4 linked regions of the Homo sapiens genome follow. The protein of the gene in region 2 interacts with the protein of the main gene of each other region in a biochemical or structural test. Each region holds a gene or a part of one and is shown on either strand. Other genes may lie near its edges.

Region 1 (6,581 bases), on a different chromosome or scaffold from region 2:
TTGCCAATAATTCAAGCTAGTCCAGACTGTTCCCAGTGAGTGAAAGCCTCAATCTTCATAGCATTGGGTGACAGGAAAGCAGAGGTAAAAGGGAAAATTTATAGCATCAACCTCCTCGGTTTCCCTGGATGGTGCTGAGGTAGAGAGGTGTGTGCACACACATAGTTACTGAAAATATTCACCTTGGAATCCCTTCTCTGACTAAAGTTACCACAAAGATAGAGACCTTAAAATTTCTGTGGGGAAGCAGGGTGAAGAGCAGAGACTATTTGATGAGGTAGACCATTAAAACAAAACAAAAAACTTCAGCTCAAAACTTGGGAAAGAGTTGGAAATAAAAATGCCAATAGACATAGGGATCCTACCATGCCCTTCATAAACATCCGTTGCAAAAATAATTCTCCTCACTGAACAAGGAGAACAAGTATTTTTTTGTCATTTATGAAAATTACCATGCCTTTGTTACTTTAATGAAGAGTCAGGCTAACCTGGGCTCACAATTCACTTATCGATACCATTGTTGAGAAATGCCACATGTACTTCTGACTTTATCTGCATCACTGTGCAAAATACGTTTTTACTACTTGGCAAACAGGAAAAATTTACAATGAAATTAGAGTACTCAGAAATACTTAAAACAACTTAAGACTAGGCAGCTATGAAATTAAGAACAAAGATTTTTTTTCCCATTTATAAACACTTATTTTAAAACTTTCTACAAGAAAAATCTGTGATTTTTAACTTAGTTCTTGTATTTCTTCAAACGAAGGGAGAAAGATAATTTTGAAAAGAACTATTACATATTGTTAAAAATTATTGCTTTCAGTCACAGTGAGAGGGAACCAAAAATTAATAGACACCATAATGAGGCCGGGCATGGTGGCTCACACCTATAATCCTAGCACTTTGGGAGGTAAAGTGGGCAGATCGCCTGAGCCCAGGGCTTCGGGATCCGCCTGGGCAACATAGTGAAACCCTGTCTCTACCAAAAATACAAAAAATAACCAGGGCGTGGTGGTGCGTGACTGTAGTCCCAGCTACTCAGGAGGCTGAGGTGGAAGGATGAACCCTGGAGATGGAGGTTGCAGTGAGCCGAGATCGTGCCATTGCACTCCAGCTTGGGTGACAGAGACAAACCCTGTCTCAAAACAAACAAACAAACAAACAAACAAACAAACAAAAAAGCCCAACACCATAATGGATTACCCCTTACATGCTAGAAATGAGTGAAGCTATTCAAAAAACTCGTTTAACTTTTAAAAAACTACATCAGCTAATTTTATTATAATTATTTTTTACAATTAATAAACTGATTCCCACATAATTCAGTTTGTTTGATAAAGACTAATATGTAGCAACACTAGAATTACAATAAAATCCTAAATATATGTGTGTATTATATATAGAAGGCAGAATTGAAGTCATTTTGACAGTAGTATCTGAGATCTAAAAAATGAGAATTTAGTAAATCCAATCCTAGTTTCCCTGAAGGCACAACCTGTTCCATGAGACATTAACAGAGTTTATGTTTTTCAATAATTTGTAGAACAAGTACTTATTAGATCAAGACACTTAGATAGATGCTTTATACTTCAGGAATTTATTTTTTCACAATGATCCAAAGTATTAGATGAAGGTTTTTTGTTTTATTTTGCTTTTAATTGACAAATAATAAATATACATATTTATGTGGTACAGTGTGATGTTTTGATACATGTATACATTGCGTAATAACCGAACCAGGGTAATTAGCATATCCATCACCTCAAATATGTGTCATTTCTTTGTGTTGAGAACTTTCAAAATCCTCTCTTCTAGCTATTTCAAAATATATGCAATAGGTTATTGTTAACTCTAGTCACCCTACTATGCAATAAAACATTAGCACTTATTTAATGTGAAGTTTTTAATACAAAAATTATTTTAAGAAAATAAGCACAGGCTGGGCGCCGTGGCTCACGCCTGTAATCCCAGCACTTTGGGAGGCCGAGGCGGGTGGATCACCTGAGGTCAGAGGTTCTAGACGAGCCTAACCAACATGGGGAAACCCCGTCTCTACTGAAAATACAAATTTAGCCAGGGGTGGTGGTGGGCACCTGTAATCCCAGCTACTTGGGAGGCTGAGGCAGGAGAATTGCTTGAATCTGAGAGGTGGAGGTTGCAGTGAACCGAGATCGTGCCATTGCACTCCAGCCTGGGGAACAAGAGCAAAACTTCATCTCAAAAAAAAAAAAAAAGAAAAAAGAAAAGAAAAGGAAATAAGCACAGCCATTTAAGTATGTTATTCACAGTTACACTGCTGGTATATGGAGAGACAGGAGTTGAACTGAGATCCTCTAGATACAAAACCTCTATACTTAAGAGTATACCATTTATGATATTTTCTCTTTAACTCACAAATAAGGGCATCGAGGGTAAACTGACACAGGGCTAAGGACTCATTCATTGGTGAACAATTATCACACGATGATATAGAAAGGCTGTTGAAAAGCTTTTCTTCATCTTCTTAGTCAGTGTCAGAGGCAATTGGGTGATAAATATCTGGCAGAAGTAATACCTAAATAGCGGTCTCATTTTATGAGGTATAGGTCAGTTTTCCTTAGGAGTACGGAAAATGATGAAAAAAATTGCTATCAAATGTCAATAAAATATTGGGGACAATATGGCACAAGGCAATTATTACATTTTACTGATGAGTGAAGGACGTTCAAATAGAAAGAAGGGAGACAGCAAGGAAAAGATGGTTAAAATGATGCAAATGAGTTCAGGTGTATGAGATGCACCTGGACAAGAGGTGCTGTACAGAAGGGGCTGAGTGTGTAAGAAGGTTCAAGAGCTTGGTGAGCACAGAGTCATGGGGACTCCACATTTTCTAGGATTTAAATATGGAAATACAGGCTGAGAAAAAGAACAGTGAGAAAACTTATAGATGAGAAATCCATGGTTTGTGATATTGAAGAATGAGACAGTGCAAGCCTCATAGTCTAGGAAAACTCCAACACGATCAGGACAAATAATCACAGAGAGGGGCACAATGAAAGGAACAGAAGGAGTATGGAAGGAACTATCCTGGAAAGCACTACATTTAACTCCTTCCTCTAACCCTATAACCCAGTAGCCGTATTTAGGTTGATAATTTTCATTTTTTTCAATATTACACATTGCATCAGGTTGGAAGCCAGCACATACCCCCAGGATCCAAGCAGTTTTCTTGGACACGTCTACCTCCCAGTAATGTTTCCCTGATGTGATACTTTGAGAGCCCAGGATGCCAGTACAATAATTGAAATTCACAAATGTCTGGTATCTTGTCCCTCGTGCCCCATATATTATCTGTGGTTTCGGAGAGCTCACTTGTCTCTTATCTTCAGAAATGACAGCACATGAAATGTTGTTTGGAGCCACTGTCACATCAACTGTAGAAAAATTAACAGGTCAGCTAAGGGATATAATGTAACTTTATTTGTGATATGAGAGAAATCTTGATAAAGACTTGAGAGAAAACTGGGAGGAACCTTGTTTAGAAGTTATAAGGAGGGGTAAGTTATGTGTGTCTTGGAAGGAGAATCATAAATCTTAAAACATGAGCCTAATAGAGAACATAAAATTCTAAAAGATAAAGATAATAATAATGATAAGCCGCAGGGTGGCTTATGATAATGTGACTTCTCCTTACCCCAGTAGCGTCGGACATCTGTCAGCTCTGAAATGATAAAAATGCACAATATTGAATACAAACAAAGGAGTCAGCACTGAAATTCATTTTCTCTCCAGATTAGGGAAAGAGTAGGTATGCCCTATGGTAGGGCAGTAAATTGCTGAATGATGAGATGAAACAGCCACCTAGCCATTTCCCATTAAATATAATCCCATCAGCAGCAGACAATATCTATCCTCCCCTATCCCCTCTATCCATATTTGGAAACTGCACCCTCTTCCCTATTTAGCACCCTAACACCACTTGAATTCCATAACCCTGTTGTTGATCTAGCTCTCCTCACCTCTAAACACTTCTAGCATTCCTTTCAGATCAGGAGCTCGAAACACTCTCCTTTGATTTTTTGGAAAAGTTTCTGGCTTCTTCAAGGTCACGTTCTCCGTCCTAAGAATTAAAAAAAAAAAAAAAAACTTCCAAACCTTTGACCTTGTGTCCGTGGAACACCCCTGACTTCCTATCATTTCAACCCATTGAGGCACTTGAACTCTCTTCTTGGGGATCCTGAGAAGGGAGAGTGCAAACTCTTGACCCTGGAGGCAAACAAAATGTTCTCATGTTTGCCTTCCCACTTACTTTCTGTGAGAACGTGGGAAGATCTTAACCTCTCAGAAGCACAGTTTCTTCCTTCTAAAATGAAATAATTAACCTCTCCCTGTCTACATTCTTAAACTCATAGGACATAAAAAAAAAAAAAAGGATTTTAAAACAAAACAAAACAAAACTTTGGTGCCTTACAAAAGAAACCCTAACATTTAATGGGTGGAAACATCATCGCTATGTATGTTGAGTTCCCAGGGAGATGGTTAGAAAGTGAGGTTGCAGAACCTGGCTCCTGGGTGTTTGACACATATCAAGAGAGGAATCCTGTTTGGAGAGGCCTAAGACCTTCAAAGCTATTCCCAGCAGGGAGGTACTCAGATAACATCTAAGGTTTCAGATTTCCGGGAAAAATTACAAACACTTGGCAAATGAGAAATTATGTGCACTAAACTATTACTGGCCTGAATATCGTGTGGTTAGAAAGAACTTGATACCACCACGTAGGTGTGCGAGGTGTGCGATTTTAGACACAAGAATAGCACCTTTTTATGCTCTTGTAAAGAATGCAACTGAGGTGGATCAATTCTTTGTACCATGACCACATATTATCCAGAATATTATTTTGAAATATTATTCCGGAAATAAACATCTGATTTTGGAAATCTAAATATAAATGAAGAGGAACTGGTCTTTTTCCAGGAGGAAAATATAAACATGTGGGAATTGTCCCAATGGACAATTAGGGGTATATAAGAGAAAAAGAAGATATGGCCCATCCAAAATAAATCAAGAACCTATTAAATACAGAAAGAGAACTAGATGTAGGTAATAAAATGGTGATGGCGCAGGGGTCCAACACTGCAACACCTTCTCCCTGAAACCACTACTGACCCACACTCCGAGTCTCCACCACCCAAATTTTCTACCATAGAATCTGGTCTATTCCTTTTCTTTTTTTTAATTTTATTTAATTTTATTGATTTTTCTAAGACAGAGTCTCACTTTGTCGCCCAGACTGGAGTGCAGTGGCATGGTCTTGGCTCACTGCAACCTCTGCCTCCTGGATTCAAGCAATTCTCCTGCCTCAGCCTCCCGAATAGCTGGGATTACAGGCACGGGCCACCACGCCCCCCTAATTTTTGTATTTTTTTGATAGAGACAGGGTTTTGCCACGTTGGCCAGGCTAGTCTCAAACTCCTGATCTTCCTGACTCGGCGTCCCAAAGTGCTGGGATTATAGGCTTGAGCCACCACACCTGGCCAAATCTGGTCTATTCTTAATAGTTATAGAACATTCGAATGCTGATTTATGACCAGAAATTTATGATAAAACAATATCGAAATTTTTCTGCCCTGGGAGATGTTTTATTCTAATTAAACCCAGGACAATTCTAATGGCTATAAATCTCTCCTCACTGCACAAAAGGACCATCTCTGTCCTCCCACACATACCTTTTTATGACGCCATCCACACCCTAGGAAGAAGAGAGAAAACATCAATTAAGAAAGAAAGAGTCTCTCCTCACTTATAAAGCTTCATCACATTTCCCCCGGTTCCTAATGTGCTGAGAATGGAGATGGTGACAGTGTGAAAGACAAAAAAGCAAAGATAAGACTCAAGGCAATCATCCCAGAAGACTCATGTGAGATTTCCAAGTTCCCTTAAAAGTAGAAATAGCTTTCATCCCTGTGGAAGAGGCTCCTGGTTTCTGCAGATGGGACATGTTTAGAAGGAAAAGAAGTGACTGACAATTTGTTTTTCTCCAAACGTATATGGCTCTCCATGAAATGATTTAAATAATTAGTGCTTCTTTGATTTATTAAACAGATGTACAGCCTAGGCAACATAGCATGACCGCATCTCTACAAAAAATAAAATAAAAAAAAATTAGCCAAGCATGGTGGCATGAGCCTGTAGTTCCAACTACTTGGGAAGATGAGGTGGGAGAATTTGAGCCCAGAAGTTTGACTGAGGCTGCACTGAGCTAGGATCACACTACTGCACTCCAGTCTGGGTTTCAGAGTAAGACCCCACTTCTAAACAAAAAGAAAATCACAAAAATAAACAAGAAAACATATATATATAAACTTATTCTCCAGGCATTATGTCACATTTTGAAGAATCAAAGATGAATGAATAATAGTGCTCAAGATGTTTACGCGGCCTTTGCTGAGGGTATAAGCAAACAAGTGTACTAAACAAGTATAGATATTTTTCTTTCTTTCTTTTTTTTTAAGAAGGAGTCTCACTTTGTTGCCCAGGAGTGCAGTGGCGTGATCTCGGGTCACTGCAACCTCCGCCTCCCGGGTTCAAGCCATTCTCC
Region 2 (7,873 bases):
CTCTGAAGAAGAATCCCAGCTTCAGAACTCCCCCTAGGGTAGGGTAAGTTATTGCTGCTCAACTTCTCCCTCAACTCAATCATGTCTTTCCCATCCCCACATGTATTGATTGCAAGTACACTCCCTCACAAGCTTCTTGAGATCTAATCTCTCTGCTTCCTGGGAGACCCAACCTGTGACAATTACTGATTTAACAGATTTGAAAAGATAGTATTGTATAAAATAATATTTTGGGCAAGGCGGGTGGATCACGATGTCAGGAGTTCAACACCAGCCTAGCCAAGATGGTGAAACCCTGTCTCTACTAAAAATACAAAAATTAGCCGGGCATGGTGGCAGGTGCCTGTAATCCCAGCTACTCAGGAGGCTGAGGCAGAGAATTGCTTGAACCTGGGAGGTGGAGGTTGCCGTGAGCTGAGGTCGCACCACTGCACTCCATCCTGGGCGACAGAGTCAGATTCTGTCTCAAAAAAGAAAAAAAAATGTTGGTCTTCTATAAGATGAAGTGGTTTTGCCACATCCTAGTTTTGGAATTTTATTAATCTTTGGGCTTGCTGCTAATAAGGGTAGAAAGGCATGGGCAAGAATGTTGACGATGGGAACAATTAAATTTTGAAAGCCGACTATATAAGATACCTTTTTCTCCATAAGAGATTTCATAAAAACCAGGGAGATGGTCCTATATTGGTATCAAATTACTGATTTGAAAGCAGTGAACTATAGAAGGAGAAAATAGGATTAAAAAGCCGTCAAGAAATATACCAGAATCCTAACAATAATTGTCTATGGGTCATAGGTCATCTATAGGTTAACTTTTTCTTAATGCTATTCTGATTTCCTGAACATGTTATATTTCCTTAAGAAAATGAGAGAATAATTTTCTTGAAACAGCTGATTTTTATGAAATTCTGGAAGAGATAATTTTGTGGTAATATTTACTTTCTCCTTAAGAAAAATATTTTAACAAGTATAGGAAACCTTGAGGCCCCAATGCAGTATTAATATTGCTACATATTTTTTCCATTGTGCATTATCTAGAATAAACCACTCCAATTAAATGACATATTGAGACAGGTAATTCACTGTAATATTTATTAAGTAGATGACTTACAAGAGGGATATTGATGAATGTAAAAATTTTCACTCACAGTGAACATGAAACCTTTACACATGTAAGGTTTAGATTCTTTTTTTTTTTTTAATCTGCCCCTTTCAGATTATATCATGGTATATGAAGCACTGGTGAGGTCTATGTCACCAGAAATTCCCAGTTTGCTGATTTCATTGAGTTTTTTAACCCGATGATTGTACTGCAACAAGTGAGCATCATTCACTGCAACCTTGAAGTGGTCAGGTTCAACCAGTACTTGTATCTGAAATGGCATATACATAAACTGTTACATGAGGTAATGCATATGTCAGCTGGATTTAGGCATTCCACAATATATACATATTTCATCTGCACTATAGAAACAATTTTTTGTCAACTGAAATAAAGGGAAAAAATGTCCATTAATTTCAAACCAGTCTGGCCTGAGCCCAGGATGTCCAACATTTCATCCTTATCATTTGTGGGACCAGTTAAGATCCAGAGAAAGTAACTTTACAGCAAAAATGCCAAGTTATGCTGGGCGGGGTGGCTCACGCCTGTAATCCCAGCACTTTGGGAGGCTGAGGCGGGTGGATCACAAGGTCAGGAGATCGAGACCATCCTGGCTAACACAGTGAAACCCCATCTCTACTGAAAATACAAAAAATTAGCTGATTGTGGTGGCGGGCACCTTGTAGTCCCAGCTACTTGGGAGGCTGAGGCAGGAGAATGGCATGAACCCAGGAGGCGGAGCTTGAAGTTAGCCGAGATAGTGCCACTGCACTCCAGCCTGGGCGAAAGAGTGAGACTCCGTCTCAAAAAAACAAAAAGCAACAACAAAAAAATTCCAAGTTATTCAGGTTTTTTTTTTAAAGCAGCAAATTTATTAGAAGGATACATAAGTGAAGCCATAAAGGTGGAGGCTAAAGATTTGCCTGCATAAAAACTTAAAAGAGCCTGGGTGTGGTGGCTCACGCCTGTAATCCCAACACTTTGGGAGGCAAAGGCGGGCGGATCTTGAGCCCAGGAGTTTGAGACCAGCCCAGGCAACATGGTGAAATCCCATCTCTACAAGAAAAATACAAAAATTAGCCACACGTGGGTGGCATACATCTGTGGTCTCCGCTACTAAGGAGGCTCAAGTGGGAGGATCGTTTGAGCCTGGGAGGTTGACAGGCTGCAATGAGCTGTGACCATGCCACTGTACTCCAGCCTGAGTGACAGTGTGAGACCCTGTCTCAAAACAACCAAAAGTTCTGATATGGTCTAAAACACCTAAAAGAAAAACACGAAAATAGGATTCCTCTGGCAAATGTTGTAAGGATTGATGATAATCAGTTTTGGCAAGGGTAGGAGAAATCTACTCTTCCCAATAGTGGATGTTCATTCCTATATCTTTTTGGAAGCAGCAATTTGACAATATCTAAATTGTAAACATGTATATTTAAAGCAAAGATTTCTAGAAGACTTGCTTCTAGGAAGCAAAGATTTCTAGAAGACTTGCTTCTAGGAAGCAAAGATTTCTAGAAGACTTGCTTCTAGGAAGCAAAGATTTGTAAGGATAGTTATTACAGTATTTTAGTAAAATCTTTCCAGGTTGGAGTGTTTCTATTCTGTAAATTTTCATCAGTAGGGTACTGGTTAAATTATCACATATCTAAAAATGAAATACTACTGGCCAGGCATGGTGGCTCATGCCTGTAATCCTCCCAGCACTTTGGGAAGCTGAGGTGGGCGGATCACGAGGTCAAGAGATCAAGACCATCCTGGCCAACATGGTGAAACCCCGTCTCTACAGAAAATACAAAAGTTAGCTGGGCATGGTAGCGCACGCCTATAATCCCAGCTACTTGGGAGGCTGAGGCAGGAGCATCGCTTGAACCCAGGAGGCGGAGGTTGTAGTGAGCCAAGATCGTGCCACTGTACTCCAGCCTGGCGACAGAGCGAGACTCTGTCTCGAAAAAAAAAAAAAGTGCTATTAAGTAACAATATTCTGATACGAAAAGATATCCACCAAATGTAGACTGTGGTCCTTATTTGTCCCTGTTGTTGAAGAGTTTACACTCCAGCTGTTTTATTCACCACTCTATAGTCAACCCTAAATGCTGTGGATCTAATTTGTTGAAGCAGTGCTTACAAATAAAAAGCGTGCTGTATGTCAGAAAATACTGGGAAGATACTCATCGAATTGCAACTTTGTGAGGATGGGGGAAGGAGTAAAAGATAGGAAACTTTGTTAATTTAAAAATTTATAAACTTTTCATAAAACTTTAATTTTAGAATAAAAAACCTTTAGTTTTCATCTCTCTGCCAACTGTGTTTTAAGCAACAAAGTCGCAGTATAACTGTACCATAAAGACTTTTTGCCTTTTTTGTTAAAGATTATATTCTTTTCATTTCTAGAAAGGCTTAAACTCAGAGGGGTGGCAGCAGTGATGATGGAGAGGTGCCTGAAAGGAACTGGGGAGTGTGCCACTCCTGGCCATGTTCTCAGCCTGCTGAGCCTGGTCCCCTGGGCAGGGAGAAGATAAACTGGTTAGGCACCTTAGGAGAGGTGATAAAAACTCTCACTTCAAGTGCTTTGGGGTTTTAGAGTGATTCCTCATGAGAAATATACATTATCAATATATAATAGTAGCAATAACTTACTTTGAATGGTTTCCCACTTTCAAATGGGAAAACCGACTGTCTTTCTTCCCTTCCCCAGTTATTATCCAGCTTTGTATTGCAAACAATGACTCTCCTGTTGTTCTCATTGAAGCGTGGGTTAAAGTGGAAGGCAACATCATTCCCTCTTTGGAAATCTAAAGCAATTCTGTTTTAAACCAAAGACCAGTTATTAAAATGATTAAAGCTGTACATTTGCACTGTGTAAAGAACATGTAATTTTCTAAAAAGCAAATAATTTCATAATACAGTACCTAGGAAATTTTTCTGAATGGAAAGCAAATAAATCAGAATGGGTTCAAACTGGAAAATATCCTATGCCTGATATTCTATGTACTATCACAAAATCTAAAGGTAAGCAAGACAATAGATGTTGAATTTTTTGCCTCATTGTCTTCGATCATATTTCCATTCATCTGTAATGCCCCTACAGACTCATGAAAACCCTTCGAGGTTTTCTTACAGAGGTTTAGAGCCACTCTGAGGACACTTTATCCCTTACTATAGATAATGGTTATCTCTTTCCTGCTCTTCCAGTTTGCTTTCAATACCTGGTAAAGGCAAGCCAGCTATATAGTTAACAGCCATCAAATACCTGGCTTCCTCATAATTAACCAGAAGCCCTAGTTCCTCTAAAACAGCAAGAATGAGATAAGGTAGTTAATATTCAGTATCTTGTTGCTAAGTTGTAAAGTCATGATAGTAAATGTGGTAAACATTCTATGATGTGAGCCAGAACCAATGAAATTGCTAGTTTAGCTTTTTGACCCTGTTCCTTCTCCCTGGAGGTTAATGCAAACACAAGTCCTCTTTGACTAACCCCATCCCTGAGTTTCTCAAAGTGCGCTCTATAGAGCGGTAACACCAGAGTCATCAGTAGGTATTCGTATTTTAATCTGCACTCTAGACCAACTAACAAAGATTGTCTGTGTATTTTGATTCACCCAGTAACAGTCACATTCAACCACAAATGATCTTCCAGTGATTAAATTTGTAAGGAAAAAACAGCATAGAATTTGTATTTGACTAAATATACAATGTTGTCATCTCTGTCACCTTAAGCACTTTTTTTTTCTACACAGTTCGTCATATAGAATTTGCAGGACTAAGCAACAGTTTTTTTTAAGTTTACTACCATTAACCATTTCAACCAGAATTAGTTTTGATCTGCCAGTCTCAATCTACATCTCTAGCATTATTAGAACTAAACTTTCCAGTGAAATGACTCTAACAAGACAAGGATACCAAACTGGGTATTCAGTGTGCGTTAGGGGTTGTGGGAGGAGGAGAGCAGATATTTAATAAATCATGAGTGCTGTGTGCACAGGATAAGGTGTGCTGGGTTCTATGTGATGTTGGGAGGAAATACGGATAAGGACATAGGTAGAGGATGTATATATTTTGTAATTTGCTATGAGACGGGCATTATTGTACGGGGAAGTTCTGTGCTTACAGAAATTGTCTAGGCTGTGTGGAAAGATGGGTTGGCTTAGGATAGTGACTACCATTGCAGAAGCAGAGGAGGCTGGCTGAGGTGGAGGGAATGAGCATTTGAATGTGAAATTATCAGATCAGAAGTGAAGTCCATCTCTTGATTGCAGGATGTGGAGCAAGGTGACAGACACTGAGACTGTTTATGGATTCTTGCATAAACCTGTGTACATGGCTTGAATTTGTGCCATTTAGGTACTGTCCATAAGACCTAGAGACAGTTCCACTAACCTTAGGGGCAGGCATCTCAGATGGTTTCAGGACATGGCCAGCTTCCTTGTATGATATGTAAGTACTACATAACCAGTGGTGACAACCAGGGCCAAGCAGCCCAGGACAGCCATAATTAGCATGTATTTTCCTAAATAAAGCCTCACCCCATCCTAGCCCACCTCATCAATCAAACTACTTCCAATAGTAAAGGTTGATTTATAATGATGAAGTTTTTAACTTGTAGAATCTCTTCAAACCCATAAGCAAATAGTATCTGCTCAAAAGACGGGTTCCCAGGCCTGCCACTGATCATCTGTAGAACCTGAACCTCAGTTTTGTCTATAAAAAGGGGAGAGCAATATTCCTTATCCTGCCTTCAGCCATGAAGATTAGCTGACATAATACATATCAAAGTATAGAATAAGGTGTGTTACCGTTTACTATGAGTGCCATGATGCTTAGCAAAATTATATGGGAATATGTATGGATTTATGGGATAATCCTATATGATGGTATAGCCAAGATTCTAAATATGTAGTTTTTAAAATTTTACTAAAATTCAAAATAGCACTGTAAGACAGGGCAAGAAGAAAAAAAGTAGGCCATTCTTTATTCAAAAACCAATCTACAAATAGAGTAGACTTGTTAATTTTGCTCTCCTTACCTGTTTGCATTGGGCTTCACCGTGCCCAGAATTGTTATCAGCATGCGAGGCACCACTCCCCCAGGCAAAGGCAGGTTATAAGGCACAATCTGGGAATTAACAAGTACATATGTGTCAATAAGGAGTCATGTTTCTTTGGGGAAAAAACGATGTTGCTAAAGTTCCATCACTATTAATATGTGTGAAAAACACATAACTCTAGTATATGCCATCTGTCCAGACTCTCAGGCCACTTTGCCCAGGGGCCAAAGAGATAAGGCTCCCTAGATGTACAAATAATTGAAAAGAAAGCCATCAGTAAATCTCATTACTACGGCCATCCCAATTTGTACTCATTCATGTTGACTATTTTTGGAAAGGCTTAAGCTAGATCTTGTGATCAACATTAACATTTTTGTATCACTCTTAAGGCCCTGTCATGGTACATGCTTTACTGTGGATATTCTGCTTCCTGGGGGCAAGCAGCATATCACATTCTGGGCTTGTGGGTTCTCATATGCTTTGTACTCACATGGCTCCAGCAGAGTGCTTTGCATATGGCAGATACTCAATATTTATGGAATGAACACTGTTAACACTGTGAGGTTCATTCCACAAATGTTTATTGACCAACTACATTCAAGGTACTGTGAATATCCCCAAAGCTCTATTTATTTATGGCCTCTTTTCTTTCCCTTTTTAAGACTTCCCCCTGGGTTTAACTATCACCCAAACCTTTTTATTTTTTGAGACAAGGTCTCAAAAATCCGAGTCTCAGTTGTTGAGGATGGAGTGCAGTGGTGTGATCATAGCTCACTGCAGCCTCAACCTCTTGGACTCAAGTGATCCTCCTGCCTCAGCCTCCCACAGTGGTGGGATTACAGGCATGAGCCACCACACCCAGCCTATCCAAATATTTTCTTTCTAGTCCTGGTGTGTACTAGTCCTGTACTTCCTCCCACCTAGATTTGCTGCTAGTGCCTCAAATTCAACAAGTGTGAACTAGAATGGTCTTCCCTACCCCCTCCCCCATCAGTTCCCCTTCATGAGTTCCCAGTTTGGGCTAAAGCTTTGCTGATGGCTCTAGTTGCTCAGCCTTGAAAAGTCAGAGTCCTCTATGACTCCTAAGACATAATCAGTAGATTCTGGGGGTTCTTCCTCTGTAATCTCTCTTACATCTGCCTGTTCCTTTCCACAGCCTTCATGTCTCCCTCTCTCTGCAACTGACTAACCATCTCTGGTATAGGCCCTCTCAATGCCACCCACTCCCCCAAGTCTTTCTACTCTAAACTGACCTAAAAGGAGACAATGCTACCTTGTGCTGTCTTCTGCATAGTCCTGAAATGGTCTAATCCCATACTGGTACTTAGCTCTTTCCTCATATTTATTATATGTTTTATCATCCAACTAGATTATAAATCTGGAAAGGAAGGATCCTGTGGCTGAGATGTATCTGGATCCCCCATGGAGTTATGTTTTACACTTAGAATTCACTTGCTATGACATATTTTAATTTGCGTGAAAATTCAACCCTTAGATCACAAAATTATCTTTAGAAGGTTTTTCAAAACCAGATTACCCTGGTTCCTCTACATGTTTGCTCAATGACCCTGGACAAATTATATCACTTCTCTATTGCCCCATTTCCCCATGTGTGAAATGGGGTTATTAACAGTATCTTATAGCGTGGTAATGGGGTTAAATGAGATTATCCATGTAGATGCATACTATTGACATGTACTCCGTAAGTGTTAATAATAACCAAAATG
Region 3 (8,201 bases), on a different chromosome or scaffold from region 2:
GTATGTGAGTGTATATGCCTACTACTCCTATAATTCTAACTTTTCCAATAAGCTTTAAATAAATGAAAACCAACTTATGATACTGGTTAAAAAGAGGAATGTAATAGTACAGATTTATGAAGAGAGTTTAAGAAAGGCATTATCTTACTTTTGTTGGGATTTTTTTAAAGATGTGTACTCTTTGAGCAGTAATTTTACAATTTCTTTCTAAATGAAAAACACATCGTTGACTCAGTAACTTCACTTCCAAGACATTTTACCAACAACTGCCACCAATTGCTTATATGGACAATAACATGATTAGGATGTTCACTGCTCTAGTTTGTAATAACGAAAGATTGGAAACAACCTAAACTTCCAGGAACTTGTGAAATGGTTACATTAATGATGATAGTACAGTAAAATCCAATGCACACTTTTTAAAAATGAGGTAGAGCTATAGGTGCTGCTATGAGACAATTTTTTAATCTCCAAAATGTACTGTTAAATGAAAAAGGAAAGGTACAAAATGATGTATATGGTATGTTTCCACTTTATTTTTTAAGTAGGGAGGTATACATACAAATATTTACTAATATGTGAATATTTCAATAAGACAAAGACATCCTTTTGTAGATCCCACAACTGGCAAGTCAATTAGGGAGATTGCAGGAAAGTATTTGAACAACTTCAAGGAATCCTTGGTTTTTGCCTCAACCTTCAAAACTTCTTTAGTTTTCATGAAAAGGGATAGGCACATTTTCACCTCCAGGAGTTAGAAACCATGTTTCTTACCACCTTAGCATCCTCAGTCATGTTATTTCCTCAGCCTACATCCTTTGCTAGATTATTCCTCAGCACGTAGCTCAGATATCACTTCCTGCTAGACGTTTTCTGAGTTTCTCTTAAATCCCAGACTAGATCTGGCCCCTTTGTTGTAAAATGCTGTTCATTGTTCTTGTGACATTTACCAAAATTTCTAGCAAATAGTTATATAGTTAATTAATTGATATCTGTTTCCCTGAGAGAACATAACATCTTTGAGTGATAGGATCTTGAATGTATAGTAATTAGTTTATTTCCATATCCTCAAGCACAATGTGTAGTACATACTGAGCACTCCATTAATATTTGTTGAAAGCTGTTATATATGCTGAATGATCAATTGACATGAGTTTTAGTTCTGGATTGGCCAACAATGTGACCTTAGTCAAGTAGTTAATTAATTTTTAGGTTCTTTACAGGTCAAAACCTTTAATCTATGAGTTTAGGCGCAAATGAAACTGAAAACATGTCACTAGGAATTGTGGTTAATTTGCTACTGGATTTTAGGTAATCTCTTAAACCTGTGGTTTCATTTATTTCAGCTCTCAAATGGGGGGCTAAACAAAAAGAACATCAAAAGAACATTCTCATTTTTCCAACAACCCTTCTTTTACCATATTTTAACTTGTGACAATAAATTCCATGCCTCTAATCCTTCAGAATTCATTCTCTCTCTCTCTCTGTCTCTGTCTTTCTCTCTCCTCTCCAGCCCCCAACACACACAAACTCACACACACTGAACTTTCCATAATTTAACTCTGGAGAGAGTTAAGGTTTTCGCTCTAAGTGAAAGTATTCTTATTCAACACTGCTTGAGCCTCTCAAAAGGCCGTATGTTTTGCCCAAGGATCTAGAAGGTGAAAATTGTTAATACAGGGTCAAAGTTTCCGCGATAAGCGTCTTTGCTGTTGTCACACCCTTGACTACAACCGTATCCTAGCCATACTGTTGGTGGCCACATCAGGTCGCCTTTTCTGACTGATACAACTTAGTTTGCATGTACAGAAGAATGCTGGGGCTTCCTTCAACATCCCTGGTTTTTTTAAGAAAAAAATTGGTAGTGTGATTACTGAGAAATCTCATAGAAGAACAGAATGGGAGTTGTACAATTTGCTGCAAAAGGAATTCATGCTCATACTGAAATAGTTCTTCCCTAAATAACCCCGTAGCTAAGTGTAGCTCCCAGGTGAATTTCAAACAAAATTATTCCCTTGGCATCTGAGGTCAATTTAGTTTCCATTCCAAACCATAGGATCCTCAATGTTTCATATCCACAACATTCTGGAATTCTAGAGGCTACAACCTCACATCTTTCTTTCTTATACCTGACATGAAAGGGGCATATAACCCATTAATGATATTTCACTGTAGCTGATAATTAAATTTAAATGGGTTAAAAATATGCACTTGGTTAGGATGAAGAGTGCATTTATCACAGTGAAGTACTCCAAGACATAAAGACAAGTTACAAATTATTGTGGAGCCTGTATGATATGTTATGCAAAATGCACTTCTGAAAATGAAAAAGGATGCCATTAATAATTGTACCAGCTCATGAGGCATAAACCAGGACAGTCTTAGGTATACCAAGATGAATGAATGGTCAACCTACTAATAATATGCATATTAAGCAAGATAGCACCAAAAGATATACAAGAAAGAAAATAAATGTCTATAATAGGTAACACACAAGTTGACAACAAATGACACCATAGGTGTCACCTGGGGAATGGTTAGCTGATTGTACCACAAACAAGCTGAATTTGGAAGGGTTCAATGTGTAGGTTTCAACCCTGAAAACTTAGAAGCTTCTTTTGGCTGCTTACCAAACATTTTCCCATCTTTTAAAGATGAATTCTCACTAACCAAACTCATAAACCAGCTTATTGGTATACATAAGAGCAATTATTGCCAAGGGAATACAATGCTTCTCTTCCAGCTAGTGCATCCTCTGACTGTAAACTGGCTATATAAGAAGTCACATTGGGCTCGGTGCAGTGGCTCATGCCTGTAATCCCAGCACTTTGGGAGGCCGCGGCATGTAGATCACCTGAGGCCAGGAGTTCCAGACCAGCCTGGCCAACATGGTGAAACCCAGTCTCTACTAAAAATACACAAAATTAGCTGGGCGAGCTGGTGGGCACCTGTAATTCCAGCTACTTGGAAGGCTGAGGCAGGAGAATCGCTTGAACTCGGGAGGCAGAGGTTGCAGTGAGCAGAGATCGCACCATTGCACTCCAGCCTGGGTAACAAGAGCGAGACACCGTCTCAAAAACAAAAACAAAAACAAAAAACAAGCATCACATTATAATTAGAAGATTTCTTAGTGACCATGAAATTCCACCATGGGAAAGTTTACTATATGACTTGAATATTCAGAGCATTACGTTCTTTTTTAAGAAAAAAAGAAAATAGAGACAGAGTTACACAATATTGGCCAGGCTGGTCTCGAACTCTTGGCCTCAGGTGATCCGCCCGCCTCGGCCTCCCAAAGTGCTAGGATTATAGGTATGAGCCACTGAGCCTGGCCCCAGAATTAGGTTCTTATAATGAGTTTTATCTATCTCAACAAAAAGCTATACCTGCTAAGGAGACTGGGCAAGTCATGTCTGCCAGTTAGAGGGGCCACTTACTTTCACCATAAAAGAAAGTGTTTGGATTCATTAAGTATAATAGCTTCAATAACCACATTTGGCCCAACTCCTCTACTTTTTCTGTGTTTCTCCAATGACCAAAGTCTTTTTCATCCTTAATCACAGGTCCTTTACGAATATACATGTTCTTTTCTTTTTGTTTTTCATTAATACTACTAAAGTGCCATCAGGTCTTGATAGCCTGTCCCACTCTGTTCTTTCATGATGGTTTTATTTTCCAGTTCAATTCTCAGTGAGGAATATTATATCCTCAACTCCCAAACTCCTTGAGAAAATTTCTTAGTAATGCATGAATGTCAGGTGCTGCCATATGGAGTTTAATTCTCCACATATGCATTGCTTCTACTGTATTTAATGCAAAGAAAAAATGTGAAGCAGCTTCTAGGTGTCAAGCTCTTAACTAGACTTGAGGATACATAGACAAAGATGATATTTGGTATTCAAAAAATTTATGTTCAACTGAAAAAAGTCACCAATATCATAATACAATGTGGTAAAAACTACAGCAAAGACAAGTACAGGGAAAAGGAAAAGGGAAAAGTTAAGACTCACTTTAGTCATTATCAACATTCCAATGTTGATTTTGCACCAAAGGCAAGTAAGTACAGGAAAGTTTTTTTTTCTTCATTCACAGTTCAAATAAGGTAATCTAGACTCTCTCTAAAACTATACAGATGGAGAGGATAAAAATCTACTTATATCAATTTCTAAGGTGAAAGTATCTTTGAGATTTATCTCCCTCAAGAAAACATTGTGTTGGAGTGCTGGTTGATATCTTAATCTACAAATTCAGTTAACTTCTCTAGTGAAATCATCATAATAAGTTAAAATAATCAAAAATAAAGTCTTTTTTAATTACAAGTTCCAATCTTCCTAACATTTATGGATTTGATATTACTGGTTTTCACTGTTTACTGTAACCCCATAATCCATTATAAGTAGTAATTTTTTTTTCTAAAAGCAGGTGTGTGAAAATCCTACTGGAGAGTCAACCTACCTGGCTGCTAACCCAACTCATAACATGAAAAGGGTATTGCTTTATTATTCATTTATTCATGGAAACTCATATGATGTAATAAAAAACTTGCTTAAGAAAAAGGGCCAGGTGAGGGTAAAATTTTTCTAAAACTTGAAATGTGATTTTGCAGAGCTAAACAAATTATTCATAGTGGAAGTGTCATTGAGCAAAGGCCAGAAGACTACAGCAATTGCCATGGTCATAGTATGTTTTCCTGTGAATGAACATCAAGGGTCTATAATATTTATAGGATTTGAGAAGATTGCAAAGGTTTAGTTTCATCTCATAGATGTTTTTAGTCTTACTTGGGCCAAGATTTTGCATCAGTTCCTTAAGTGATACAGAAAAGAGCTAAAACAATAATAACAGTAATAGAGAAGCAAATCAGAGAAGCTGGACAGCTGTCTAATTTCTGATTAACCTATTCCCCAGCAGTTTAGTTTCATTGTGTTGAAGTACTATGAATTCTTAGACCAGACAAGTATAGACATGTTCATTGAAGTACCTCAACTCAAAGTCAAATTAAGTAATCCTTTGGTTAGAAGATGTTTTGGATTGTGCGCAACTCTGATTTCCCCTTCAATGGAATGGATAATTGAGAACTGACTGGATAAATAAGAGAGGAAGCATTAAAAGCTAATTTCATTCTTGGAACATAGACTACAGTAATGGGCTATGATAATAGGTTAGCATAAAACAATTACTGAATACCATACCACATTTGGAACTAGGCCTATCTGAAATATATAAGGTATTCTATTCAATAATAAGGGAGAAAAGAGAATGTAAAATTTATTATTTAAGCAGAGAAATTAGCTGCATGAAAATATCAGTAACTCCAAAAATATGGTAATGACTTACGTACTATAGGGACACTATAATAATTGTAGGATTTAGATTTAACCTTACCAAACAGCCTGCAATATTCTCTTCCTGAATATAGAATATCTATTTTAGTCTTGAATTTACTCTCCACAAGGAAAGGAAAATTCTACCCTAATAAAAAAAGTAATCAAAAGTATAAATGGATTTTTTTCCATTTCTTATTGAAAATAAACTGAGTTGAAATCCAAAAGTAATAACCAAATAAATGTTATCACCCACCACACCCAAGAAACCATTCTTTAGTATTCCAGTAAGTTAGTTCATTCTTCATATGTCACATACATGTGTCACACACATAATGTGTAAGAAATGAGATTAGCCTCTGTGAATACTTAACAATGAAGAATAAAATTAACACATTGTGAGAAATTGCATTTAAGTTTCTATGTATACATTGAGACAGAGACATATTCTTCTATCATAGCTATACCTAAGTGGATCTTCTGCATATCTGGGCTATAAATTGCATGTGTCTACTTGAGTGAATACCTTCAGGGAGCTAGAACTCTTTGATGGTGTTTTATGCTAAATAAATGGCCAGAACAGAAAGAAGTGTGTTTGGAATTGTAAAACATGGTGATTATAAAGCATTTAAAATACTATCTGACAAACTGCTGCCATCTTACACCAAGTAATATTGACAACTTAGGTGGTACTAAGTTTTACAAAGGCCCACGGTTAGTGGCATGAAAATTTGACGGAGAAAAAGAAAAAAGAGAAAAAAAAAAAGAAACATCTTTCCATTATTTTAATAAAATGATAAAAGTGATAATTAAGTGGAATAAATTAAAGAATGTTATTCTATTAACAATATAATAAAAGCCTTAATTAATATAGCACGTTTTACTTAAAAAATTTGAAATGCTGAGCAAGGGAATTACTAATCTCAACACAATCAGAACCACACATTGCACAGAAAGAAATTCACAGATGGGAAATAAAAAAGAGCAGAAAAATAATTTTCCCAAGGTCACAACATTCTTACATGACATAGTTAGAAACTGAACACATGAATACTGACTACAATATACAATTTTTCTAATAACACAAGACTATTTAATTAATTTTCTTCTTTTTGATAAGTCAATGGTAGACATGCATTTTCATCTGAATGTCTATTAAAAAAGATAAGCTAGTTTGAATTTTTTACAAAGTCAGAAAAGGTTTGGAATCTGGTAAGACAAGATATTTTGGATTTCTACAAGTTTTAAAACAATAGAAAAATATTAGTATTTTCTATTTCCTTCTGTCTTGCATTTACAACCATGTTGCAAATCAACTTTTTGAGCAACTTTAGGATGTACAATATGAGGCTTTGTCATATGAATATTTAAGCATAAACCATAATTTACATCTCATTCTAGGTACTATGTATGCAGTTTATATAGGAACAGGTTTGCAGGAGAGATGAGTTACACTAGCAGGGCTTTCTGAGGCCTACTATCCTTTCTTACTTTTGGGTCCTCTTTTCCCAGGAGAGTGGAAGGCTAATTTCTCTCCTTCACGCTTTTTTTTTTCCCTACTAAGGCTGGAAAGAGTAAGCATAGATGTTATCATGAATTTTTAAAGGTAGAAAAAAAAAGGAAATTAGAAATTGGGGTCTACTGATACTTTTCTAATAATACAATTTATATGAATTTTGTCTAGACTGAGATCCTTAGAAAAATAGTGTTGAAAAATGACTCTGCCTGCCTAAATTGGTTTTTTACCTTAAGACTTCAGAAACAAAGAGTTTTTGAGCTGGGAGACATTTCAGAGAGTAGGCCTCTAGTCTGTCTTTTTATTTTGTATGAGAAAACTGAAGCTCAAAAAGGTTAAATGACTTGCTCAAGTGCCTGAAGGTAGATGTCCTGAAGAAAGCCTAGAAAAGCAATTTACTGCAAATAATGCTCCATTAAATTGTAAATTGCTATTGGATTAAATAAATCCTTAAGGAAAAAATATATATATATTGGCTGTTAAACAGTTTTTAGTTTTTAAATTAATCAATTTCAATAGTCCTACATCAATAGTCTTTGAAAGGACATTATTTGAGTTGATGCTTTCCCAAGTCCTGTTGAGATCAATTGATATGTTTCAAACATAATATCCCACTGAAGAAAGCTTTATGTGTGCTTATGTCTTAGAATGAATCTTATATCAGTGAGATCAGTGAGTAGTTATGAAAAATCCCATAGAGGGGTTCATACAGATGACCCAAGTGAAGAAAGAGTTAACTGCAGCGCCCCATCTCCTTGTAAATAATCCAGAAAAGCATTCTTTTTTTAAGCAATACAAAATGTCACCACAGGCTGACGCTCTTTCTACAAGAATAACGAGAATATTGCTATCTCGGATGTTGAACACACACTTCATTGCCTTCATCTCTGAATTCAGTTTTCGTGGTTCATATATTTTTCTCCTCCTTTCAAAACAGGTAACGTGGCACGCCTAAAATATATCAATGACTTTGTAGCGACTACAAGCCGAAAGACCCGGGGAAGCAGTTTCACAAACTCGAGTTTTTGACCTCTACAACTGGACATACACTATTAAAACTGCTCCGGAAATGAAGAGTGGCCGGCAGGGAAGGCAGTTACCCCGCTCAAATGAAGCCGGCCTTTGGCACCGCGCCCCCACCGGGCTCTGCTATGCAGAGGGCTCCGAAGAAGGCGCACTTACTGTCCAAGACTTGCTTCCTCAGTGTAGACACGGCGCCTTTAGTGCTGTAACCTTTCCTTTCAAAACACACTGATACTGCAATGAGAATTTCGGCAATGCCAGCTCGGTAATTCACCGAAACCACGGATCTGAGGGTCCAGGGCCGATATCGGATCCTCAGATTCACGGTGGCTGGTTGC
Region 4 (8,201 bases), on a different chromosome or scaffold from region 2:
TACTCCAGTCAAGAGGCCTATTTTCCTGTTCCTCAAACATACCAGGCATGCTGCCCTAGGGTTTTTGCTATAACATTTCCTCAACTACAATGTTCTTCTCCCAGTTACGGCCTGAACGAATTCCTTCAACTTTTTACTTGAATCTTTGCTCAAATCTCACCTTCCCTCAATAATGCTTACCCTGACTACTCTACTTATTAATGCAATCTGCTGTACAAACATAAACATGTAGTTGCAGAATTCTTTTTTGATTAGCTCTCAGAACTTTCTAACATATAGTATAATTAACTTACTTAGATATGGTTATGGTTTATTGCCTGTCTTCTTGCTAGAATGCTAATTTCACAAGATTATGGCTTTTTGCTTATTGTGTTCACTGATATATTTTAAATACATGGCATATGTTAGCTACTCAATACATATTTGCTAAATGAATAAATATTCAGCATCCAGTATCATGCCAAGAACTTTAGATGATGCATAATTTGTTTAGAGTGGATGGATGATTAAATTATGTTCTCAGAAGTGAAGATCAATTTGTGATGTTCCATCCATTCCTCTGTTCAATTTTCTCTGTAGTGGGAACTTTAAAGAACATTGGTTAGTATTCTGTAGTTATAAAATAGAACAAAACTAATAGGTCCATATGAAAAATGAATCCAAGACCTTGATTTTTTTGCATTAACATAGATAATACTGTATCATTAAAAATTACCAGTTGATATGGTTTGGCTCCGTGTCCTCACCCAAATCTCATCTCGAATTGTAATCCCCACATGTCAAGGGAGGGACATGATTGGATTATTGGGGCAGTTTCCCTCATGCTGTTCTCATGATAGTGATTAATCATGACATCTGATGGTTTTAAAGTGTGGCACCTCTCCTTTGCTCTCTCTTTCTCTCCTGCCGTCCTGTAAACAAGGTGCTTGCTTCCCCTTCGCCTTCCCCCATGATTGTCTAACTTTCCTGAAGCCTCCCCAGCCATGCAAACCTGTAAATTAAGCCCCTTTCCTTTATAAATTACCCAGTCTCAGGTAGTATCTGTAAAGCAGTGTGAAAATGGACTAATATACCAGTCATTTTGGCACAACACTTCAGAAACTCTAAAATACTTAAATATTTCAGTAACTATGAACAAACTTTTTCATAAAATAAATATGAAAATACTTTTAAGTGTTCAAGTAAATATGATTTAGGACATGACTCCACTCTGATTTTGCTATGTAGCTTCATTATCCGCCATGAGTTAAACATGTATTTATTAAGCTCTTTCTATCTAGATGCAAAGAATTTAGTGACACAAAGATGAACAAGATGCATCAAAGATGAACAAGGTCAGCATCTAAAACACATAGGCATATTGTGTCATTCAAGGTCAAATCGGAAGACACAAATCACACCATTACTTGAATAGAAAGAACTTAAAATAAAAACTGTTAACTAGGTGTAGTTATTAACTAGGTAGCTAAAAGGTTAAAAGGAACTCTGAGGTATTAAGGAGGTAGCAATTGTATGAAATAACATAGCTACCACTTCCAGTGCTAAAGGAATAAAAGGAAGAAGTTAGAATTATTAAAACTTAGAAACTTGCAGGAGTGGCTCATGGAGCTGAAACTCAAACCTCCGAGAAGGGTGGTCTCCTCACATGAGTAACTATGCCCCCTCTTGACAGTACCTAACATGGGCCCAGCTGGCAACACAATTATGAGGTCTGTAGAGTTCTAGCCCTAGTATCACAAAATAGAGGATAGAAGAGTAGGTTTGGAGCTGAAAATCAACTTAATAAATAGCATACATATCAACTGTTACAATTCAGTGTGGTAAGGACTAAATGATAACCCAAGACTGATGAGGCTATAGACTGGCCACTCTCATGTAAGTGTAATCACATATTTAAGAGAAAAAGCTCTACAATGGTACAAGGCTTAGCCTACAATGATTTGAAATCAACACAATTATTAGCAATATATCAGTGAAGATAACACAGACTGCAGCTTTTCTGAAATTCCTAGGGCAATAGTTATTCTTATACCTCACACTTATGAAAACAGATCCAAAACACAAATGGGTAAAGCTGACATTTGTGTTAGAATAACTGAATCTCATTTATTTAAAAAAGTAAGTCATCTGCAAACTGGGTAACAAATTTCTTATGGTATCTCAACCATCACAAAACATACGTTTGCTCTAACAGTGAAGAACCACTGAATTATAGCAGACGTAGGCAGTACATGGTAGAGAGGCACTCAAAAAAAGACCAACAAATAGAAAGCTTCAAAGAAAGGCAAATATTTAAGCTGGACCTTGAAGGAGAAGGAAGATTTCCACTATTAGAAAAGAGAGATATATGCACTCCAAGCAGAAAAAAAAAAAAAACTACATATATGCTTGGCAAAGAAGAGTAAAAGGATTTGGCATAACTGAAGAATGGCAAGAAGTTAGAAGGCCTCAAGAACCCATGGCTTATGGTGGGAAAGGCACGTGAACGACACTGATAATTCCATACTAGTGAAATAATTCAAGGTTGCAGACCATTTCCTAAGCACAAAGTTACTGCATACAGCAGACACAAAATATTAATAAAACACACTAATGTATACCTCTGGTAATTATCTACTTAAACTTACAACTAAGTCCCTAACCACATTTAAACTACCTACCTGCTGCAAAGTCTTTTCACAGTGGAGGCAGGCTGCAGAAACCTCTGACAACAAAATAGTCATATCTTCTTGTTGCTGCCTGAGCCAAATCAATTTTTCACGAACATGAGCATCAACAACACTTAGAGCCATTTCTTCTTGACGACACAGAGTTTCATGTAGATCATAAAAATAAGCTCGAATACATGACCGGGCATTCTCTGCAGTCCCTGGTACCTAAGAAAATGAAAATAAATTTTAAGCAACTGTAATGTTAATAAAGATTTTACCTGTGAAATATTTAAAATTTCAGCCTAGGCAACATGGCAAAACTCTGTCTCTACAAAAAATGGAAAAAATTAGCCAGCCGTGGTGGCATGTGCCTGTAGTCCCAGCTACTCAGGAGGCTGAGGCGGGAGGATTGATTGAGCCCCAGAAGTCAAGGCTGCAGTGAGTGGTGATCACAACACTGCATGCCAGCCTGGGTGACCGAGCGAGACATTGTTTAAATACCATCTATATTAAATTCCAAAATATAAATCTCCATGCTAGATCTTTCCCCTAATGCACAGACATTGGAAATTCAACTGTTTATAAATGACATCTCAAGCAAAATGGAATGCCTAATCTCCAGTCTCCCCTATTCCCAAACCTAATTGCCTCTGTCTTGGTAAATGGCAACTCCATCCTTCAGGATGTTGAAGCAAAAACAACCGGAGTCATCATTATCAGCTCTCTTTCATAGCCCACTAGTCCCTCAGCAAATTCTGCTGACTTCAAAATACACCCAAAATCTGATCATGCCTCATCACCTCTAAGTTACCTATCCAATCAATATTAACAATTAATCACTAAGACCTATCTATTCTACTTATTTAAAATCTCAAATCCATTGACTTGTGTCCACTCTCACTACCCTAGTGTATTATAGGCCATAAACATCTCTAGTATTTTAACTAGAAAACTTTAACAACATCCTAATAGGTCTGCCTGCTTCCAATTTTGTTGCTCCTCCAATTCATTTTCTACATTTAAAACAACCTTTCTTGAGGAAAATCTGATTATATCATTCCTAAGTCAATTCTTCAATGGCTCATCACTGTCCTTAAACTAAGTTCTGAACTCTTTAACATGGCTGACAAGATCCTGCATGATTTGGCTTTGAACTCTCCATATCCTCTTTTCTTGTCATGTCCCATTCAATACTTAAAGCTCTAACTACAGTGAGCTTCTTTAAGTCTCTACAATATGTACAATCCTCACTTACAAACATTTTAACATATTGTTCCCTTCTTGGGACAACTCATTCCCCGTTCTGCTCTTTTCCCTGACTGAAATTCTTCAAATCTCAGTTTAAACACCATTTCTTCTATAAGGACTTCTCTGACCTCCATAAATCATTGTCCCTGTTTTGTGATGCCAAAGCACCCTGTACTTCTCCTCCATAAAATAGTTACCATATTTCAAACTCTCTCTTTTCCATGATGAATGAGTTCCTGAAAGACAGGGACTTTTAAAAAACTTTCTAATGATTGGTGCAATACTGGCAAATTGTAATTGCCCATTAATTACTTAGTAGAAGGTGAAAATATGAAAAATAAAAAAGAATGAGAAAGTGAAGAAGAAAAAAAATCCATACATGTTCTGTGTGAGCCATTCCAATTCCATCTTCCACGATTTGTTCTCCTCCTTCAATGTGCTGCACAATTCCAACTAATTTTCTGGAATAATCTGAGATTTCCTCTGTGAAGGTCCGTATGCAGTGAGCCATATCTAAAATTGATGCTCGGATCTGATTAGCTTCTGGTTCCAATACTGAATGCTATAAAATGTACCATAATTAGAGAAAAGAACTCATAGTATTGACTAATAATATAAAAAACTATTTAAATCCCTATTAATACAAAAAAGCATCAGCCACAAGTGACTTTTATGACACAGAAAAATACTAATTTACTTTCACTCCTTTATAAGAAAACTGTACTGCAAAGAAGTAATTTAAAATTTGGAAGTCCGTTTATTGCTAAACAAAAAACCAAGAGACTATCTCTAAAATCATATCCTAAGTAAGAGCTAACAGACATAAATATTGTCAAAACAATCTGGTGCATTATGAAAACATGCAAGCAAACAGAATGTTTGTTTCCTGCTCGAAAGCTATTTTTTTGTGAAGAATCATGATGCCTCTTTGAAGTTTTTTTTTTTTTATAACATTCAGAAATTAAATCTCTCATTTATTTTCATGCTACCAAACCCAATCACTCATCACTTAACTCTTCTTCAATCCCTACTTTCAGAATAAAGAACCAGGTCAGTGAAAACGAATACTGAGCTGGTAAAGTAGCTACAGTGATCCAACTGATTAATAATTAAATTCATACCTTGTGACCCTGGTGTTTTCCATATTCTTTGCAGACACAGCACATGAGTGGGCTAGTTTGACAACCTTCTTCCAAGCAAACAAACTCAATGGCATGCACCTGGTGCTGAGAGCACATAGTTTTCTCATGAGGTTTATCAGCTAGAGGAACTCGCCTGTGCTTTGCTAATGTCTTTGTAGAATGAGTAACTTGAGAACACTCAGAGCACAAATGAGTTGCACACACAGTGCAATATACAGAGGCAAGGTGAGCTTCATCTTCATCACAACGAATGATGCTCTGATAAACAAAAAATTAATGCCTTAAAATTGAACCCAATCAGTATAACATGACGAATTTTTAAATATAGAATCCATAATCCTTTTTGCTTAACTGAACAATATTTACATATGAAAATATATTGGTCATTAAGAACAAAGGTCATTCAATACTCATCTGAGAAGCATTCATTTCTAGGGGTAAGAAGCTATTTCCAAGATTAACTGGCCAATATATGTTATGAATTTGAAGCCAAAAATAGAACTATTCTCATAGATTCATATTCGGTGCAAAGATCTCTTCCACCAAATCCCCTCACTTTACACAAAAGAAACTAAACCATAGAGAAGTCAAAAGTCTTTCTGTAAAACTACAAAAATCTGATATTAAATACATCCCCATAGCTTTAAATATTAGTTGTCATGATGATGTATAGGAAGGACAGAAGCACAAATGCTATTTAGAAAATGTAGGAGTATGCATCAGAATTAGCTGTAAGCTTTTAAAAACATAGCTGTCTGGAAGAGAAATTCTTATTTCAACAGGTTGTGGATGAACCCTAGACTTGTATATATTTTTCTAATTATACGCCATGTTATTTTAATAGCTCCACAGGTGAGTCTATTGCACAATCACGGCAGAAAACCACTGATTTAAGCAAATAAAAAAAAAAATAGGCCAGGCTCAGTGGCTAACATCTGTAATCCCAGCACTTTAAGAAGGCTGAGGCAGGTGATCACTTGAGGCCAGGAGTAAGAGACCAGCCTGGCCAACATGGGGAAAGTCCATCTCTACTAAACATCCAAAAATTAGTCAGGTGTGGTGGTACATGCCTCTAATACCAGCTACTCAGGTAGCTGAGGCACGAGAATCACTTGAAGCCAGGAAGTGGAGGCTGCAGGGAACTGAGATCACGCCACTGCACTCCAGCAAGGGTGACAGAGTGAGACTCTGTCTTAAAAAATAACAATAAACAAATAAATAAAACCTATATGTAAGCATGTAAATATTATTTCTAGTTTTCAGGAATTACAAAAAATAACTAATTATGAAATAATTACTTTTATTTCAAGTAGATAAAAAATTACATGTCAGATAATCAAGAATGTTTTGAACACTTTTACTCAATATTAAAAGGCCATAATTGGAAGGGGAGAAATTTAGTATAAATTTTTTCAAAAATAAAAATGTTTAAATACATCAATGGTGTCATTCTTTATCACATTAAATAAAAAATGAATCCAAAGTGGAAGAGTTTTGTTTGCAATTATGAGAAATAAACACATGTACCATAAAAATTCAGGTCTTCTGTTTCCCAGACCTGACAAATAAATAAATTATAAACTATAATGTCAACATTAGCTAACAGTAATGTCTTTTGAAATAAAGATTAAAGATTTAGCACAGAAAGAACTGCATAACTTTTAGAAAACAGAGTGTTGCAGTTTGAAATTCATTTCACTGATTCACTTTAGTATAAAGAAATCATCATCTAATGAAAGAGAAGTGAAAGCAATCCGACATTTTTTTTCCTTCATACAAAATATGTGGTTTGCAAGTTGATCACCAAAATCATTAACTGATATTTACTCCAAATATATTTTTACCCATAACAGCCTACGAAAGCCATGTCCTATAGTACATATGTGCAGCTATGCAAACACATAAGTGCTAAAAATATACTTTTACATTATTAAAATCCAGTGTTCATGGATTCTGATATTTACTAGACATCTACCTGTATGGATAAAGACAGTACATCTATACAAAGTTTAACCTTTTCTTGAAGCTATAACAGTAACAATTCCCTCAGAAGTTACTGCTATCTTTAAGGCATTTTCCCCTCTGTATTAAATGGCCTCTTACATCGAGTTTTTCTTTCTCTCATTGAGTTTTACTGTTGACTACTTTTGCATCCTCTTCTCTACTGTTGCTTACATATCTTTCTTACTATTCCATAATCTTCTTCCTCTTTTCACTTTATTCTTGGTAGAACTGAATTATGATAAGGAAAAAAAAGTTCACACATAAAGCATAGTTTAGGCATAGGATTTTCAAATAATTCTAGTTTTTTCTCTTGGGAATAGTGTTGGCCTTCAGAACTGTAATGTAATGAAAAGTTGTGTTTCTAGAAATTTACCTGCTGAAATAAATGAAGTAATATTGTGCTAATAATGGCATCTATTAAAAGAAAAATTCATGCTCGTAACAAATATTTCACCAAGTATGATCAATACCTCTCCAGATATCCCAATGGATTCTTCTGCAGCTCCATACTGACCAATAGGCCCATTCTGCAGTCGTTCCAAAAGCTCCAATAAAGCAAAATTTTTTTTCAATCCCCAGACACCTGAATCACCTAGAATAAATATAAAAACAAAAACTAAATCTAACAAAATGGACTATTAATCATTTTACCCATACCTCAAAAGTAATTTCTAATATAGTTCAGTAGTTAATGTCTAAATTTTTAAAATTCAAATTTTCCCCATTTTTAATACCAAAATAATTGCTTTGTTAATGCTCTCTTAAAAAACAGAAGAATCCTTCAGCCTTCCAAGTAGAAACACACTTTAAAATTTATTATTTTTTGGCCAGGTGCTTTGGCCCACGCCTGTAATCCCAGCAGTTTGGGAGGCTGAGGCGGACAGATCACTTAAGGCCAGGAGTTCAAGACCAGCCCAGTCAACATGGTGAAATCCCGTCTCTACTAAAAATACAAAAATTAGCCAGGTGTGGCGTCAGGCGCCCATAATCCCAGCCACTCAGGAGGCTGAGGGACGAGAATTGCTTGAACCCGGGAGGTGGAGGTTGCAGTGAGCCAAGATCACACCACTGCACTCCAATCTGGATGACAGAGCAAGACTCTATCTCAAAAAAAAAAAAAAAAAATCTAAATACACATAAAAAAAATTATGGTGGT

The links.
Region 1: the proteins of LGALS3 (region 2) and TRIM5 form a complex in vitro, tested with the Homo sapiens proteins (one study listed by BioGRID).
Region 3: the proteins of LGALS3 (region 2) and ALCAM form a complex in vitro, tested with the Homo sapiens proteins (one study listed by IntAct).
Region 4: the proteins of LGALS3 (region 2) and TRIM23 form a complex in vitro, tested with the Homo sapiens proteins (one study listed by BioGRID).

Annotation. Positions count from the first base shown.
Region 1 is NC_000011.10:5,661,980-5,668,560, forward strand, and holds the end of TRIM5 (tripartite motif-containing protein 5), read right to left. Parts: intron 6,121-6,581; coding exon of another isoform or gene 5,920-6,120; exon of another isoform or gene 5,739-5,919; intron 5,733-5,738; coding exon 5,710-5,732; intron 4,103-5,709; coding exon 4,002-4,102; intron 3,704-4,001; coding exon 3,677-3,703; coding exon of another isoform or gene 3,528-3,676; exon of another isoform or gene 3,417-3,527; coding exon 2,830-3,416; 3' UTR 2,195-2,829; coding exon of another isoform or gene 2,056-2,194; 3' UTR 1,216-2,055; downstream 1-1,215.
Region 2 is NC_000014.9:55,138,616-55,146,488, reverse strand, and holds the end of LGALS3 (galectin-3), read right to left. Parts: intron 6,215-7,873; coding exon 6,126-6,214; intron 3,906-6,125; coding exon 3,740-3,905; intron 1,374-3,739; coding exon 1,218-1,373; 3' UTR 1,066-1,217; downstream 1-1,065. UniProt on the Homo sapiens protein: Galactose-specific lectin which binds IgE. May mediate with the alpha-3, beta-1 integrin the stimulation by CSPG4 of endothelial cells migration.
Region 3 is NC_000003.12:105,369,407-105,377,607, reverse strand, and holds part of ALCAM (CD166 antigen isoform 1 precursor), read right to left. Parts: intron 1-8,201. UniProt on the Homo sapiens protein: Cell adhesion molecule that mediates both heterotypic cell-cell contacts via its interaction with CD6, as well as homotypic cell-cell contacts. Promotes T-cell activation and proliferation via its interactions with CD6.
Region 4 is NC_000005.10:65,606,583-65,614,783, forward strand, and holds part of TRIM23 (E3 ubiquitin-protein ligase TRIM23), read right to left. Parts: intron 7,638-8,201; coding exon 7,516-7,637; intron 7,274-7,515; exon of another isoform or gene 7,145-7,273; intron 5,300-7,144; coding exon 5,021-5,299; intron 4,462-5,020; coding exon 4,279-4,461; intron 2,877-4,278; coding exon 2,661-2,876; intron 1-2,660.